Homo sapiens: one gene and its partners. The protein of the gene in region 1 interacts with the protein of each later gene in a biochemical or structural test. Each region holds a gene or a part of one and is shown on either strand. Other genes may lie near its edges.

Region 1 (3,079 bases):
GAGGCTGAGATGAGAGGCTCCCTTTAGCTCAGGAGTTGGAGGCCGCAACGAACTATGATTGTACTACTGCACTCCAGCCTGGGCAGCAGGGCAAGACCCTATCTCTAAAATTTAAAAAATAAAATATATAAATTAGATAGGTCAAGTTCAAAAAGACACGCAACTACTATGTGCCAAAACTTGGGCTGAGCACATTGAGTGCTCACCACCGCCCTGTGCCACCAAGTCTGATACCATCCACCCTGTGTCCTAGATGAGGAAACAGGTGCACAGAGAGGTTAAAATGTTGGCTGGAGGCCAGGTGCGGTGGCTCACGCCTCTAATCCCAACACTCTGAGAGGCCGACGTGGATCACCTGAGGTCAGGAATCGGAGACCAGCCTGGCCAGCGTGGTGAAACCCTGTCTCTACTAAGAATACCTTAAAAAAAAAAAAAAATTAGCTGGGCATGGTGGTGCTCACCTGTAATCCCAGCTACCTGGGAGTCTGAGGGAGGAGAAACGCTTGAACACAGGAGGCCGAGGTTGCAGTGAGCCCAGATCGTGCCACTGCACTCCAGCCTGGGTGACAGAGCGAGACTCTAACTCAAAAAAAAAAAAAAAAAAAAAAAAAAAAGGCCGGGTGCAGTGGCTCACACCTGTAATCCCAGCACTTTGGGAGGCCGAGGCTGGAGTTCCAGACCAGCCTGACCAACATGGAGAAACCCTGTCTGTACTAAAAATACAAAATCAGCCAGGCATGGTGGTGCACGCCTGTAATCCTAGCTACTCAGGAGGCTGAGACAGGAGAATCGTTTGAACCTGGGAGGCGGAGGTTGTGGTGAGCCGAGATCACGCCATCGCACTCCAGCCTGGGCAACAAAAGCGAAACTCCATCTCAAAAAAAAAAAAAAAAAAGCCTGGGTGCAGTGGCTCATGCCTGTAATCCCAGCACTTTGGGAGGCCAAGGCGGGTGGATTACAAGGTCAGGAGTTCAAGACCAGCCTGACCAATGGTGAAACCCCGTCTCTACTAAAAATACAAAAATTAGCCGGGCATGGTGGCAGGTGCCTGTAATCCCAACTACTCAGGAGGCTGAGGCAGGAGAATCGCTTGAACCTGGGAGGTGGAGGTTGCAGTGAGCCAAGATTGCGCCATTGCACTCCAGCCTAGGCGACAGAGCAAGACTGCGTCTCAAAAAAAAAAAAAAAAAAAAAATGCTGCAAGTTACTCAGTGCCACGTGGGTCTCAGCTACCCCAGGTCTGAGTCCCAGAAACCAGTCTGACCAGGGAAGCCGTGTTTGTTGACGTCCTGGTAGAAAACAGGCTCCCAGTGTGTGTCTGCTCTGTGCTGGCATCCCCTCCGGAGACCCTTCCCAGGCCTGCCCCCCATGTCCGACGCACCTGGGCCCCCTGATGAGCCGAGATTCTCCCACGATCCCTCGGGCTCTGGGACTCATCTGCCTGCACGGGCTCCGAGGACCGGGCCAGGGCTGGAGCCGGGGGCTCATCATCCACATCCGTGTAGGGCCCCCCCTCGCCGTCTGTGTAGCCCTCGCCATCCGTGTACGCGCCGCCCTCGCCGTCCGTCTCGTAGTCGCTGTTAACGCGGCTGTCGCAGCTGAGGTCAGCGGAGCTGTCGGCCAGGCCGTGGTGAGGGAGGTCTAGGTTGTCCTCCAAGGAGCCATCCAGCTGTGGGGTGGGTGTGGATGCTGCGGCTGGCCCTGGCCAGGACCCCAGCTGCCACCCACGACATCCCCCCACCTTCAAACTCTGGTCCCAAATCAAGGCGAGGAGCCTGGAGCCTGGAGCCTCAGTGGAGGCTTCTCTGTTGACTCCAGGATGGGTTGTATCCATTGACCCTTCACCTGAGAGGCTCAGCCCCCAAATCCAAGCTGAGCCCCAAACCTTGACTCCAGCCCCAAGAGAAGACTCCATTCTCTCTCTCTTTTTTATGAGAAGGAGTCTCTGTTGCCAGGCTGGAGTGCTGTGGCGCAATCTCTGCTCACTGCAACCTCTGCCTCCCGGGTTCAAGTGATTCTCCTGCCTCAGCCTCCTGAGTAGCTGGGACCATGGGCGTGAGCTCCCGTGCCCCACTGACTCCATTCTCAAAACAGCTCCTCCAGGCTGGGCGCGGTGGCTCAGGCCTGTAATCCCAGCACTTTGGGAAGCTGAGGCAGGTGGATCGCCTGAGGTCAGGAGTTTGAGCCCAGCCTGGCCAACATGGTGAAACCTCGTCTCTGCTAAAAATACAAAAATTAGCTGGGCCTGGTAGCGCTCGCCTGTAGTCCCAGCTACTCGGGAGGCTGAGGCAGGAGAATCACTTGAACCCGGGAGGCGGAGGTTGCAGCAAGCTGAGATCACACCACTGTACTCCAGCCTGGGTGACATGAGACTCCATCTCAAATCAAACAACAAAAAACAGCTCCTCCAATCTCATCTCACCCAAGTTCCAGTCCAACACCCTTGTCTCAGGTCCCATCTTGACTCTGGCCACAGTCCTGATCCCTGACCAAGCCCTAACTCCCGACAGAGGCCCCAAACCCCAGCTGGGCCTGCACAGCGTCTGTGGGGCCTCCCTGCCCGACCCACCCACACCGCGGCAGTACCTGATCTTCCGCCGTCCAGATGGGCCGCGTCTGCTGCTCTCGAATGATGGCCTTGAGCTCCTGGTACCAGGTGTCACTCGTGCCATTCAGAGGGATGGTGGCTGCAGGGAGGGGACGTCAGTGTGTGCAGGAGACTCAGGCTGGGGCCCACCCGCCTACCCTGGGACACCCACCCCCCAACCTGTGAAGAGGTGGCTGCTGTGTTTTCGCAGCTTCTGGGCTTGTGCGTAGAGGCGACGGGTGCTGCGGCGGGAGGCAGGCGCCAGCCACTGGCGCAGTGCCTTGAGGGCCGGCCGGCTCTCGGGGATGAAGAAGACCACAATGGGGTAGTACTGCACATAGTTGAGGCGCTCGATGGCGGAGGGGGTCACATCCAGGAGCGCATGCTTGTCCTGGGCCAGGCCGGCGGACGTTGGGGTGAGGGGGATTGCAGCAGGGTAAACAGAGAGAGAAAGATAGAAAGATGAAGAGTCTGAGGTCAGAGTGGACCCCA
Region 2 (4,114 bases), on another chromosome or scaffold:
TATCTGTTTTTGGTCATGCTGCATGTCTGATAAGCAGCATTGTGTAGTTAGTACTTTGCTGTTTTTACTTTAGCACTATAAGACAAAATTATTACAGTTCTCAGTGTATGCTGTCAACAGTCTAGGCTGTAGAACTTTTAATAAGTGTTACAAATGAATTTCTTTAAACTGTAAGTGCTTATTCAGATAATCACCTCACTAGAATATAAGATCCACGAACACATATTTTTGTCACTTTTGTTATCTACTGTGGTGGAGTGCCCAATACCTAAAGCAAACTAGGGCCTAGAGTAAATATTCAATAGTGATTTCATGAAGAAATGAATGGAGGAAGGGAGGATGGCAGGTACAGAGCAGGGGATAAAGGGAAGAATCAGTATTTTAGTTTAATTTTTGTGAGCTACACATTATTAACAGTTCTTTTATGGTTTTGTTTTTGTTAAGGATTTCTATATTCAAGATATTAATGCAGGCTTAAGAGATGAAACAGAAATACCTGAACAATTAGTAAGTACATTGACTTAATATTTAATTTTAAAAGATATTTATAAGCTCTCTTCATGATGTGAATAAGGCATGTTCTAATTTTTGTCTCAAGTCTGTTTTTAATTTAGAATGCATTTTCCTGTAGACTTAATATTGTTAGTGATGGTTAGTTCCTAGACCCAGACCAGCTCATGCCCCATAACAAAAGAAGCTACAATATGGCCCTGAATCCCCTTTGATTCTTGAACCCTTCTGAGCCTAGACTTGTTCTTGACCTTGAGGAAGTTAGGAAAATTAAAGTAGCACAGCAAAGACGGAGTAGAAATTTAGCAGTTGGACAATTCTGATGGCAGCTTAGGGAAAAGGCTTGATAGAGAGAAGAGCCTAAGCTGTCATGGGATTTGCCCAGTTGGTAAACCTCTACTCAGTCTCTGTTATGCTACTTTAAAGCAATTTTTGGCTACATTATTTAGTTTTATTTTTGTATATAGGTTCCAATTTCTTCTCTATCTGAAGAGCAGTTGGAAAAGTTAATTAAGAAATTGAGAAAAGCAAGTGAAGGTAAGACTGCCTAAAGTTGCAAGTTCAATTATTTTAGAGTAATTAGGTGGTATATGAGTTGATACCATTCTGGTTTAAAATATGTTACTACTATTGTTCAGAATCCTACAATTACATGTTTGGCTGCTTAAGCTGTTGTGCTTATATTTGGCACAGGCTTGAATTCTACACTTAAAGATCATATTATGTCCCATCCAGCATTACACGATGCACTTAATGACCCTAAAAATGGCGATTCTGCAACCAAGCACCTGAAACAGCAGGTATGTTTAGGCTATAGTAACTACTAAACATGGCCTTTGTTCATTTGTTAAAACTGTTTTAAATGTAATTATTAATAAGATTTTATTTTGTTTACCTTTGAGGGTACCAAATATTTCCATTTCAAAAATATATAGAAACATATACAAAAAATTGAGGGCATGGATGTGATTCTGAGTACCGTATATTAAATATTTAAAGGCAAGAGAGAAAAATTTTAAGTCAAATACAAATTATCAATGTAAGCATACTGCCTTATGCAGAAATTACCTTGCTGTTTTCCCATTTGAACCAAATGTGTTTACTCTAGTTTATAAAATAATCTTGTGAAGTTTGCAGGCTTCTATTTTAGGTAACATTGAAAATTTAAAGTTACTTGGTCCAAGAAGATGCTTTGTTGAGTTTGGAGCGGGAAAGGGAAAATTATCTCATTGGGTTGATATTGCCTTAAAAGATGCTGAAAAAGTTCACTTCATCCTAGTGGAAAAGGTGACCACAAGATTCAAGGTAAGTGAAACCATTGCTCTGTGTTAGTAACCAAACTTGTTTTCATTTTTTGTATTCAGGAAAAAAGTGATAGAAACATTTCTTAAAAGAAAGGAAAGGAATTTTCTTTATCTGTTTGTTGTAGCTTTTTATTAGTTCTAATTGTATTGATAACTCAAACTGAAGGTGAATTTTTTAATCTAAGTTTTGATAGTCCATTGATCTGAATTCTTAAAATTATTTGCAGAGACAGGAAAATATATAGAAAGAGCCAAGCTCAAGCTAGGAGTTAAAAGTCTTGGGCTCTACTCCTATCTTTGCCACTTGCCCTTCATTCATTAAACAATTTTTGAGCATACTGCCAGGCCCCACCCAGGCTGAAGTACAGTGGCAGGATCGTGGCTCACTGCAGCCTTGACCTCCTGGGCTCATATAATCCTCCCATTTCAGCCTCATGAGTAGCTGGGACTATAGTCCCACGCCACCATGCCCAGGTAATTTTTTAAAATTTTTTGTGGAGACAGGGTCTCACTTTGTCGCCCAGGCTGGTGTCGAACTCCTGAGCTTAAGCCATCCTCCCACCTTACCCTTCCAAAGTGCTGGAATTACAAGTGTGAGCCACTGTGCCCAGCCACTTTATTACTTATATTTAGAAAAGAGACCCAGGCAAATACATAAATGATTGTAGTGAAGTGTTAAAATACGAGAAAGGTCTGCACAGAGTACAGCATGGTTTCAAAGAAGGGAGTGACAAGTTCTATTGCAGGGAAGAGATGGAGAATGACTATGTAGAAAAGGTGATGCTTGAACTAAATCTTGAAAGGTGAATTGGTGTTTGTTAGAGAGTTTGAGAAGCATTCTAGGAAGCAAGAACAGTGTAACCAAATACCTGAAATAACAGGAAAATATGGAAACATTCCTGTATAATGGGAGTACATGGTGCAAAGTAGAGTTCAGCAATGATGGGACTGGAGAGGATGGCTAGCCTATAGAAGGTCTCATATTTTATGCTAAGGAAGGAGTTTGACTATGCTGCTGTCTGGTGGGGATACAATAGAAAAAAGATTTAGTTCTTGGCTTTGAGGAAGCTTACGTCTAGTGGAGTAGACATATAAATATTTGTGTTCAGTATGCTAAGTGTGTTTTGATAGTGGTAAGTACCCAATCCTATGGGAGCATGAAGATAGAGCACCAACCTCAGTCTAGTGTGGGTCATAGAAGTTTTTGCAGAAGTGACAGTTGAGATGAGATTGAAATAATATGTAAGAGTTGGTAAAGTAGAAGGAAATTTTTCAAAGTTTATCCTAGCAGCACCATTAAAACTATATTAGAAGAGTCTGATACTTAGAGAGATTAATAATAAAGATAATTTTTGTCCAACAATCCAAGTAAGAAAGAGGCCAGAGCTAAAGCTATTGCATTGGGATGGAGAGGAGGGCAAGAGTATGAGAAATATTAAGATGTTGGAAGCCACAAGAGTTGGTGATTTGTTAGTAATTGAATATGAGAGATAAGGAGTAATTCTCGGTAGGATTTTTATGGCTTAGGTGACTAAGTGGTGTTCTTTCCTGAGATAAGGAATGAAGGAGGCACAAGAGGAAGGATGGTTTTGGAGACAGAAATAATGAGTTCAGTTCTGAATGTGTCCAGTTTGCTGGTGAAGTAGAGCTTTCTAGTTCACAATTGAGTATGTGTCTGATGCCCATTGGAGAGGCCTGAGCCACAAATGTAGATCAGCCGGTCGTGGGCACATAGGTATAGATTAGAATGGTTGTGATCTTTCAGGAGAGCAAGAAGAGGAGCGAACCAAAAATAGTACACCAGGAGTGACAAAGATAAAGGAGCTAGTAGACAATCTTAGATAAATCACTTAAGATCTGTGAACTTCAGTTCCTTTGTCAGTGAATTGGGAATTTTTAGGGTTAAAGGAAATAATGTCTATGTAATAATTGATAAACATTTTCAAATCTTTTTTAAAAAGTGTGATATTTTGAAGTTCTCATCAAAGAATGTACAATCTTAATTTTTAAATATGTTCTGTTGCTCTGAATTTTGAAAACCAATAAAAATCTTTTTATTTTCATAAAGCTTTTTTAAATGTAAGAAGTGATTATTACAATAATGTTCTGTTTGTGCAGGTGGATGGAAAACACAGAAAGAAAAATTCAGTGTTTGAAAGACTTCAAATTGATATTCAACACTTGTGTTTGAGTAAGTTGTGTAACTTTCCATTGGTCTACAAATAAATCATAACTGTTTTAAACTCTGAGGTTGCTTAGAAATCCAATCATGCAGAACTGTGCTTCAGGGAAAACAGTCA
Region 3 (4,114 bases), on another chromosome or scaffold:
AGAGCAGGAGTTGGGACCTCTCCCCATTTCCAGTTCTGCTGACTGCCTCCTCCAGGCTAGGTGGGAGAGCCCTGGCCCTTCTCACTGGGCACCTTAGACCATGGAAACGGCCCTGGGGTGGAGGGAAGTCCACATTCTGCACCATGTTTCTGGAGTTTGCTGATAAATCAGCCCACTGTGTCTCCAGCCTGTCTGTGCCTGAGGCCTGCTAAGTAGGGAGTTTTCTGTCTGTGTTGGGTGAGGAGCAGGGGGCACTGCTTCCCCAGCCTGAGCCTTTCTGGGCTCCTACAGAGGAACCACTGTCAAAAGCAAAGCTGAGACCCCCAGGAGAACCCCTCGTGTTTCCAAGAAGCCAGCATGGATCCTTAGTCTAACTCCCAGGGAGCAGCAGCTTAGAAGGACAGACTTGTTGGGCCAAATGGGGCCTGGAAATTCCCACCAGCTCTCCCCTTTTCAGCTCTCCCGAAGGCACCCAGTGGAAACCCCAGATGTTGTGTGCATCCTGCAGGCGTCCTCTCTTTGGGCCTCTTAACACGCAATCCAATTGCCCTGATGTCCAGCGGCTTCAGGTCTCATTCAGGGCAAGCCTGGCTGTTTGCAGGCCTGAGTTTCAGCCATTCACTCCTCATCAGAGCTGGCTCTGGTCAGCTTATGGCCCCAGGAGGCCCTATGGGCTCTGGGCTCTGCAGACCTAGGAGGCCTTCTTGCTTCATGCTGTAACAGTGGACAAAGGCGGAGGAGCTAAACAGCAGGGGAGGTGCACAAAAGCCCTTTACGGTTGGGCATTTTACAAAGTGCTGGGTCCTCTTCACCTCTATACTTTTCACCAAGGGCTGGCATAGTGGCCATTGTCACTGACTCCCAGTGGTTGATACTCACCTTGGGCAGGCCAAGCTGTGGATAGAGGCAGTTCATCTAAACAAAGACAGGACCCCTCCGAGATGAGTTTGTCATCTGGATGGCCCTAGGAGCCAAGTGCTGCCCCCCACCTGGAGTAATGCTTACCTGGGGATCCCCAGCAGCCCCTACCCTCACCTCTACCCCAGATGCTACCTGGTTCCCCCTGCCCACGTTTCTCCCTCCCATATCTCCCTGGCCTCTTCACTCCCTTCTCTGGGTGACCTCATCCCTTTCTGGCTTCAGACACCAAGTATATACTGATGCTTCCCCAGTCTATGTGCCTGGAACTCTCAGTCTCTGAGCCTGGGACTGCACAACCCCCCTAGCACCATGCTCAGGGCTACAGTGAGGATGGCACCCCATGCAGCTACACGAGGTGGCCCTGTGGGTCCTCATTCGGAGTTGTCTCCCAGCCACCTCCCTGTCATCCCCCAGTGTATCCCACTGGCACTCAAATCAGCCACGCATACCTGTGAGCATTCATCTTCCTCCTACATGTGTACCCTAAAGCATGCTACAGCCCCCCACCATGCACTAAGCTCCTTAGGCCTAGCCCAGGATGGATAAAGGTTTTGGGAGGCATTTTCTATACCTACTAGAGCCAGCTGTCCCCAGTGGGTGAGGGCAAGGTGGAAAGGGATAGTAGTGACTCTTCTGTCCCCAGTCCGGAGCTATCCCCTGTGAGCCCTGTGGCATCGAGGCCTCTGAGGAAGAAAGTCTGGGAGCCGCACACTGACTGTGTGTTGTGTGTTTTCCCTCAACAGGACTGCACCTTCTTCAATAAGAAGGACATCCTCAAGTAAGTGTGGCTTCTCGTTCACCCTGTTGGGACTGGGACTGGGGCCGGGGTGAGGCTGGGGCACCCCACATGGGCTGGCTGTGCTCCTGGGGCTGAGGCAGAGCATCAGCATGTATCAGGAGCCACATTCAGGTCCCCACTCGGCCACTGGGCTAGGATGGAGTTAGAGCTTCCCACTCCTCCCAGGGCCCAGATCCTCCTGCTGGGGAATGAACATCTACTTACTATGAGCTTTCAGGTGGGTAGTTTCCGGCACATTCTTATTTAATCCTCATTGTGACCTTGTAACAAGAGAATCCATTTATCCCCATTTGACAGATGGAGCTTAGCAACTTGGCTAAAGTCACAGAGCCAGGGACTCAAGACCCAGCCTCTGACTCCAGGTCCCTTGCTATTTCACTGCATCCTGGGTCCTGGTATAGCAGGGAGTCCCTGTCTGTTAGACCAGGGGTCCCTAAGGGCCCTTTGGCTCTAGCTTTGATGTTCTTCCACTCCTAGGACGTCTAAAAGTTGAGGGCATGGCCACCACCCCTGAGCTATTCATCAGGGCTCTGCTTCTTCCCAGGACAGCCCTTCTCCTTGGTGTTGATGGGGGTGGGGGTGGACCTGGATGGGAAAGATAAAGGGGATCGGCAGCCTCAGAACCCCAGGACCAGTGGGTGAGCAGGAATCACTGAATACCAAGAAAACTGCCCCACGGGCCTCACTAGGCCCCTCTGCCTGGGTGGCACTAAAAGCCAGCAAAGTCCCAGGATCACTTGCCCTGGAGATCGATGGTCAGGCTGGGACCAGAGCCCATTGCAGCTTCCCAAGAGAGCTGTGCTGCAGCTTGTCACTGCCCTAACCATTCTGCTCATTCAGGCAGTGCCTCTCGGCTTTCCTCTCTACCCAGGCTGCTATTCCAACCTGTCACCTGCATGGGCAGGGGATACCCCACTTCCACCACCTTAGAGAGTCTGAGCAAGGGGCAAAGCCTCCAGGCCTGGCATCAGTAGACCTGGCATCTGTGGCCTTGGGCAACCATTTGACCTTCCCTGAGCCTCAGTTTTCTTCTGTATAATAGGGATAGTGAAACCTACCCTCATAGCATTGCCGAGAGGCAGCAACACTGGGGTATAGTGTTTGATAAGTGGGATTTGCCCTGTAGCTTGAGAGATGTCAGGGGTGAGGTCCCCATTTCGACAGGATGGCTCTCGGTATTGGAATAACAAAGCTGTCACCCCTGGCATTCTTGTGGCACCTTTTACCTTTCAGAGTTCTTGGCATGGAGCCTCATTTGAGCCTCACAGGGAGCTTCGGGTTCCCTACCTTTGTAGATGCCAAGCCCAAGCTGCCTGTCTTCTGAGGCCCACGGCCATTTTCATTCTGGCAACAAAAGCCCCTTGCCTCGGCCTTTGCACTGGCTATCTCCACTCCCTGGAGTGTCCTTCGCCTCTCCTCTGCCCACAGCATTGCTATGCATCCTTCCAGACCCAACTCCAGAATCATCTCCTTTATAAGCACCCCCAACACCCTGCCACCCTAGTGCTATCCCAGCTGCTCTAACAGCCTGTTAGGGGCTCCTTGGGTTCCTGGACCCAGGGGCCCAGCTCCCCACCAGACTTGTGATCAGGCAGGACTAACAGGGAGCATGGCACCTGTTAGCCACCAGTGACCATATGAAGAGTGTGTGGGTGAAAGACAGGTAGGATTGGCTGAGGGAGAACATTCCAGGCTGGGGAGCAGCAGAGGTGAGACACAGGCCAGCTTCTCCTGCTCCCACTCCCACCCCCATCCTCCCGTGGTCTCATTGACAGCAGCAAGATTGCCTGTGTGGGGAAGAGGAGAGAGGAGCTTGAAGGCCAGTCCGGGAATCCGATCCAATATGATGGGCCTTTGGTGGTTGTTTTAGTCCATTCTCATGCTGCTATAAAGAACTGCCTGAGACTGGGTAATTTATAAAGGAAAGAGGTTTAATTGATTCATGGCTCCACATGGCTGGGGAGGCCTCAGGAAACTTACAATCATGGCAGAAGGGGAGGCAAACACATCCTTCCTCACATGGCGGCAGGAAAGAGAAGTGCTGGGCAAAGGGGGAGAAGCCCCTTATAAAACCATCAGATCTCGTGAGAACTCACTATCATGAGAACAGCCTCGGGGTAACTGCCCCCATGATTCAATTACCTCCCACCAGGTCCCTCCCATGACACGTAGGGATTATGGGAACTACAATTCAAGATGAGATTTGGGTAGGGACACAGCCAAACCATATCAGGGGTATCCCTGGCCCCTTGGAAAATGAGGGGCTCCAGGCAGGTGAGAGGGCTTGAGGAGAGGCGTCCTGGCTCCCCACAGCCCTGGCCTGCACCCCTCTGCACGCATCAGGACCCTAGGCTCTGTAATTCAACACCAGAGCAAAACCCAAGCCTGAGGCCC
Region 4 (4,114 bases), on another chromosome or scaffold:
TCGGAGGCTGAGGCAGGAGAATCGCTTGAACCTGGGAGGCAGAGGTTGCAGTGAGCTGAGATCGCGCCACTGCACTCCAGCCTGGGTGACAGAGTGAGACTCGGTCTCAAAAAAAGAAGAGGAAAGAAAAGAAAAGAAAGGAAGAAAGGAAGGAGGGCGGGAGGGAGGGAAGGAAACAGAAAGGCAGGGAGGGAAAGAAAAGAAAAAAGAAGTATTAAGTAATGGAATAGAACATAATCTACAGATGCTGTCGTGTCTGGCTGGCTGTGGTGGCTCATGCCTGTCATCCCAACACTTTGGGAGGCTGAGGCGGGTGGATCACTTGAGGCCAGGAGCTCGAGACCAGCCTGGCCAACATGGTGAAACCCTGACTCTACTAAAAATACAAAATTTAGCAGGCCATGTTGGCACACACCTGAAACTCAGCCATAAGATGAGTTTTCACCACAGCTGGACCCTAACCAACAATTATCATATCAAAGTTAAAAAAAAAAAAGGGAACAAATAAAAAACTTAGCATTCACTAGAACAGGCAGATTTGGAGAGATGGATTCATTGGTGTTGGGCAAAGGGAGTGGCACACAAAAAAATACTTTATATTTCTACCAGATCTATTATTTAGTTACTTACACATGCAAAACAGCACTTATATTCCAGTTAGGTACTTAGCTAGTACTTAACAGCCTTTCATTATGTTCATCTACACATTGAAGATAAACTCCAAAACATATGCTGTTTTGATCAAGAAATTAAAAAATATTTATATAAGCAAGTCCTATAGCTCAATAATAAGACAAATCACCAATAAAAAGTGAGCAGAAGGCTGGATGTGGTGGCTCATGCCTGTAATCCCAGCACTTTGGGAGGTCAAGGCGGGTGGATCACAAGGTCAGGAGTTCGAGACCAGCCTGACCAACATTGTGAAACCCCATCTCTACTAAAAATACAAAATTAGCCAGGCGTGGTGGCGTCTGCCTGCAATCTCAGCTACTCAGGAAGCTGAGGCAGGAGAATTGCTTAAACCCAGGAGGCAGAGGTTGCAGTGGGCCAAAATCGTGCCACTGCACTCCAACCTGGGAGACAGCGAGACTCCGTCTCAAAAAAAAAAAGAGCAGAAATTTGAACAGCTATGTCACCAGAAAAGATACAGGAATGGCAAATGAGCACACAAAAGGTTGCTCCATATCATTAGTCATTAGGGAAATGCAGATGAAAAATACAATGAGATACTATTAAACACCACTACCATGGCTAAAATGAAAAAAGACTGATAATACAACTTGTTGGTGAGGACGTGAAGCAACTGGAATCCTCATACACTGCTGGTAGGAATGCAAAGTGATATAGCCACTGTGGAAGGCAGTTTGCCAGTTTTTCAAAAATAAAGCTGAATATATACTTACCACAGAACCTGGCATACAATTTCTAATTATTTATCCAAGAGAATTGAAAACCTATGTCTCCACAAAGATCTGTACCCAAATGTTCATATTTATTTATAATAGCCAAAAGTGAAAACAACACACATATCAATGGATTGGCTAATGGATACAAAATGTAGTGTGTATAGATATATACACACACAATGGAATACTATTCAGCAACAAAAAGCCATGAATAGTTTCTATACATTCACACCACATCTCAAGACCATTAAAAGACTATGCTGGTTGAGTGCAGTGGCTCACGCCTGTAATCCCAGCACTTTGGGAGGCTGAGGCAGGCAGATCACTTGAGATCAGGAGTTCGAGACCAGCCTGGCCAACATGGTGAAACCTCATCTCTACAAAAATACAAAAATTAGCTGGGCATGGTGGTGTGCACTTGTAGTCTCAGCTGCTTGGAGGCTGAGGCAGGAGAATCGCTTGAACCTAGCAGGGCAGAGATTGCAGGGAGGTAGAGATTGCAGTGATCTGAGAATGCGCCACTGCACTCCAGCCTGGGGAACAGAGCGAGACTCTGCCTCATTAATAATAATAGTAATAATAAAATGAAACCACCATACTAAGTGAAAAAAATAAGACGCAAATAACTGCATATGATTCCACTTAAGATGTTCTGCTGGCCAGTTGCAGAACAGGAACTCCCTGTACTAGCTTTACAATTTTTTTTTTTTTTTGAGACAGAGTCTCGCTCTGTCGCCCAGGCTGGAGTGTAATGATGCAATCTCGGCTCACTGCAACCTCCACCTTCTGGGCTCAAGCGATTCTCCTGCCTCAGCCTCTTAAGTAGCTGGGATTACAGGCACATGCCACCGCGCCGAGCTAATTTTTGTATTTTTAGTAGAGACAGAGTTTCACCATGTTGCCTAGGCTCGTCTTGAACTCCTGACCTCAGGTGATCCACCCGCCTTGGCCTCCCAAAGTGCTGGGATTACAGGCGTGAGCCACCGCGCCCAGCCTACAATTTTTAAAATAAATCTAAAACTATTCTAGGGCAGGCGTGATGGCTCATGCCTGAAATTCCAACACTTTTGGAGGCTGAGGCAGGTGGATCTCTTGGGCCCAGTTGTTCGAGACCAGCCTGGACAACATGGTGAGATCCCATCTCTACAAAAGAAATACAAAAATTAGTTGGGCATGGTGGCGTGTGCTTCTAGTCCCAGCTACCAGGGAGGCTGAGGTGAGAAGACAGATGGAGCCTGCACGATCAAGGCTGCAGGAGCAAGCTGTGACTGCGCCATTGCACTCCAGCCTGGGTGACAGAGTGAGACCCTGTTTCAAACAAACCAAAAACAAACAAACTATTCTTTCTTTTTTTTCTTTCTTAAAAAACAAACTATTCTAAAAAATAGAGTTTATTTTTTAAAAAGATTAATCATTGGAAATACGAACCACTTTATTTACTGTCACATCTCTACAGGAAAAGAAAGCTATAAAAATGTAGCAATCTTTCCCCAGAAAACTGGATCTCAATTTGCTGCAAAGGCTAAAACTAGAATGTAGTCTGTCACTAGGTGGAAATGGGAAAACATTACTGAAATTGTATGGCAATAAAAAATTTAAGGAACGGCTGGGTGCGGTGGCTCACGCCTGCAATCACAGCACTTTGGGAGGCCGAGACAGGCGGATCACGAGGTCAGGAGATCAAGACCATCCTGGGTAACACAGTGAAACCCCGTCTCTACTAAAAATACAAAAAATTAGCTGGGCATGGTGGCGGGCACCTGTAGTCCCAGCTACTCAGGAGGCTGAGGCAGGAGAATGGCGTGAACCCAGGAGGCGGAGCTTGCAGTGAGCCGAGACGGTGCCACTGAACTCCAGCCTGGGCGACAGAGCAAGACTCTGTCTCAAAAAAAAAAAAAAAAAAAAAATTTAAGGAACAAGTTCTTAAACTTAGAGAGACTGAGATCAGAATACAAAAGTTCCAAACTATTAAATTTTTTCATCTACATAAGGTGTCCCTTTGCAGAAACAGCTTCTTTGTCTTAGGGGCAAATTCAGTGTCTTTGATAGTTTCTCTTGAATAATAATTTTATTAACCAGCAAGGCTAAGTAAGCCTTTGGAGGCAGATGGCACTACAGATTTTTATTTTTTAATTTTATTTATTTGTATTTATTATTTGTATTTATTATTATTTTTTGAGACGGAATCTCGCTCTGCTGGGATTACAGACGTGAGCCACCGTGCCCAGTCTATTTTTTTTATTTTTTTTTGAGATGGAGTCTCACTCTGTTGCCAGGCTGGAGTGCGTTGGTGCAATAACAGCTCACTGCAACCTCTGCCCCAGCTAATTTTTGTATTTTTAGTAGAGACAGGGTTTCACCATCTTGGCCAGGCTGGTCTGGAACTCCTAACCTCAGGTAATTCACCCACCTTGGCCTCCCAAAGTGCTGGGATTACAGGCGTAAGCCACCGGGCCTGGCCTAGATTTTTTTTTTTTTTTTTTTTTTGAGAAGGAGTCTCACTCTGTCACCCAGGCTGGAGTGCAGTGGTGCTATCTCAGCTCACTGCAATCTCCACCTCCTGGGTTCAAGCGATTCTCTTGCCTCCACCCCCCCTGAGTAGCTGGGACTATGCTCGCCACCAAGCCGGGTTAATTTCTGTATTTTTAGTAGAGGCGGGGTTTCACCATGTTGGCCAGGATGGTCTCCATCTCCTGACCTCGTGATCC

What was found. The genes of interacting proteins can lie anywhere in the genome.
Region 2: the proteins of TJP3 (region 1) and TRMT13 interact in a test that uses a peptide from one of them, tested with the Homo sapiens proteins (one large-scale study listed by IntAct).
Region 3: the proteins of TJP3 (region 1) and CIB2 interact in a test that uses a peptide from one of them, tested with the Homo sapiens proteins (one large-scale study listed by IntAct).
Region 4: the proteins of TJP3 (region 1) and EZH1 interact in a test that uses a peptide from one of them, tested with the Homo sapiens proteins (one large-scale study listed by IntAct).

Annotation. Positions count from the first base shown.
Region 1 is NC_000019.10:3,746,384-3,749,462, reverse strand, and holds part of TJP3 (tight junction protein ZO-3), read right to left. Parts: intron 2,979-3,079; coding exon 2,768-2,978; intron 2,688-2,767; coding exon 2,587-2,687; intron 1,670-2,586; coding exon 1,382-1,669; intron 1-1,381. UniProt on the Homo sapiens protein: TJP1, TJP2, and TJP3 are closely related scaffolding proteins that link tight junction (TJ) transmembrane proteins such as claudins, junctional adhesion molecules, and occludin to the actin cytoskeleton.
Region 2 is NC_000001.11:100,139,205-100,143,318, forward strand, and holds part of TRMT13 (tRNA:m(4)X modification enzyme TRM13 homolog), read left to right. Parts: intron 1-444; coding exon 445-507; intron 508-977; coding exon 978-1,047; intron 1,048-1,203; coding exon 1,204-1,310; intron 1,311-1,647; coding exon 1,648-1,815; intron 1,816-3,932; coding exon 3,933-4,005; exon of another isoform or gene 4,006-4,010; intron 4,011-4,114. UniProt on the Homo sapiens protein: tRNA methylase which 2'-O-methylates cytidine(4) in tRNA(Pro) and tRNA(Gly)(GCC), and adenosine(4) in tRNA(His).
Region 3 is NC_000015.10:78,121,290-78,125,403, reverse strand, and holds part of CIB2 (calcium and integrin-binding family member 2), read left to right. Parts: intron 1-1,664; coding exon 1,665-1,699; intron 1,700-4,114. UniProt on the Homo sapiens protein: Calcium- and integrin-binding protein that plays a role in intracellular calcium homeostasis. Acts as an auxiliary subunit of the sensory mechanoelectrical transduction (MET) channel in hair cells.
Region 4 is NC_000017.11:42,734,885-42,738,998, forward strand, and holds part of EZH1 (histone-lysine N-methyltransferase EZH1), read right to left. Parts: intron 1-4,114.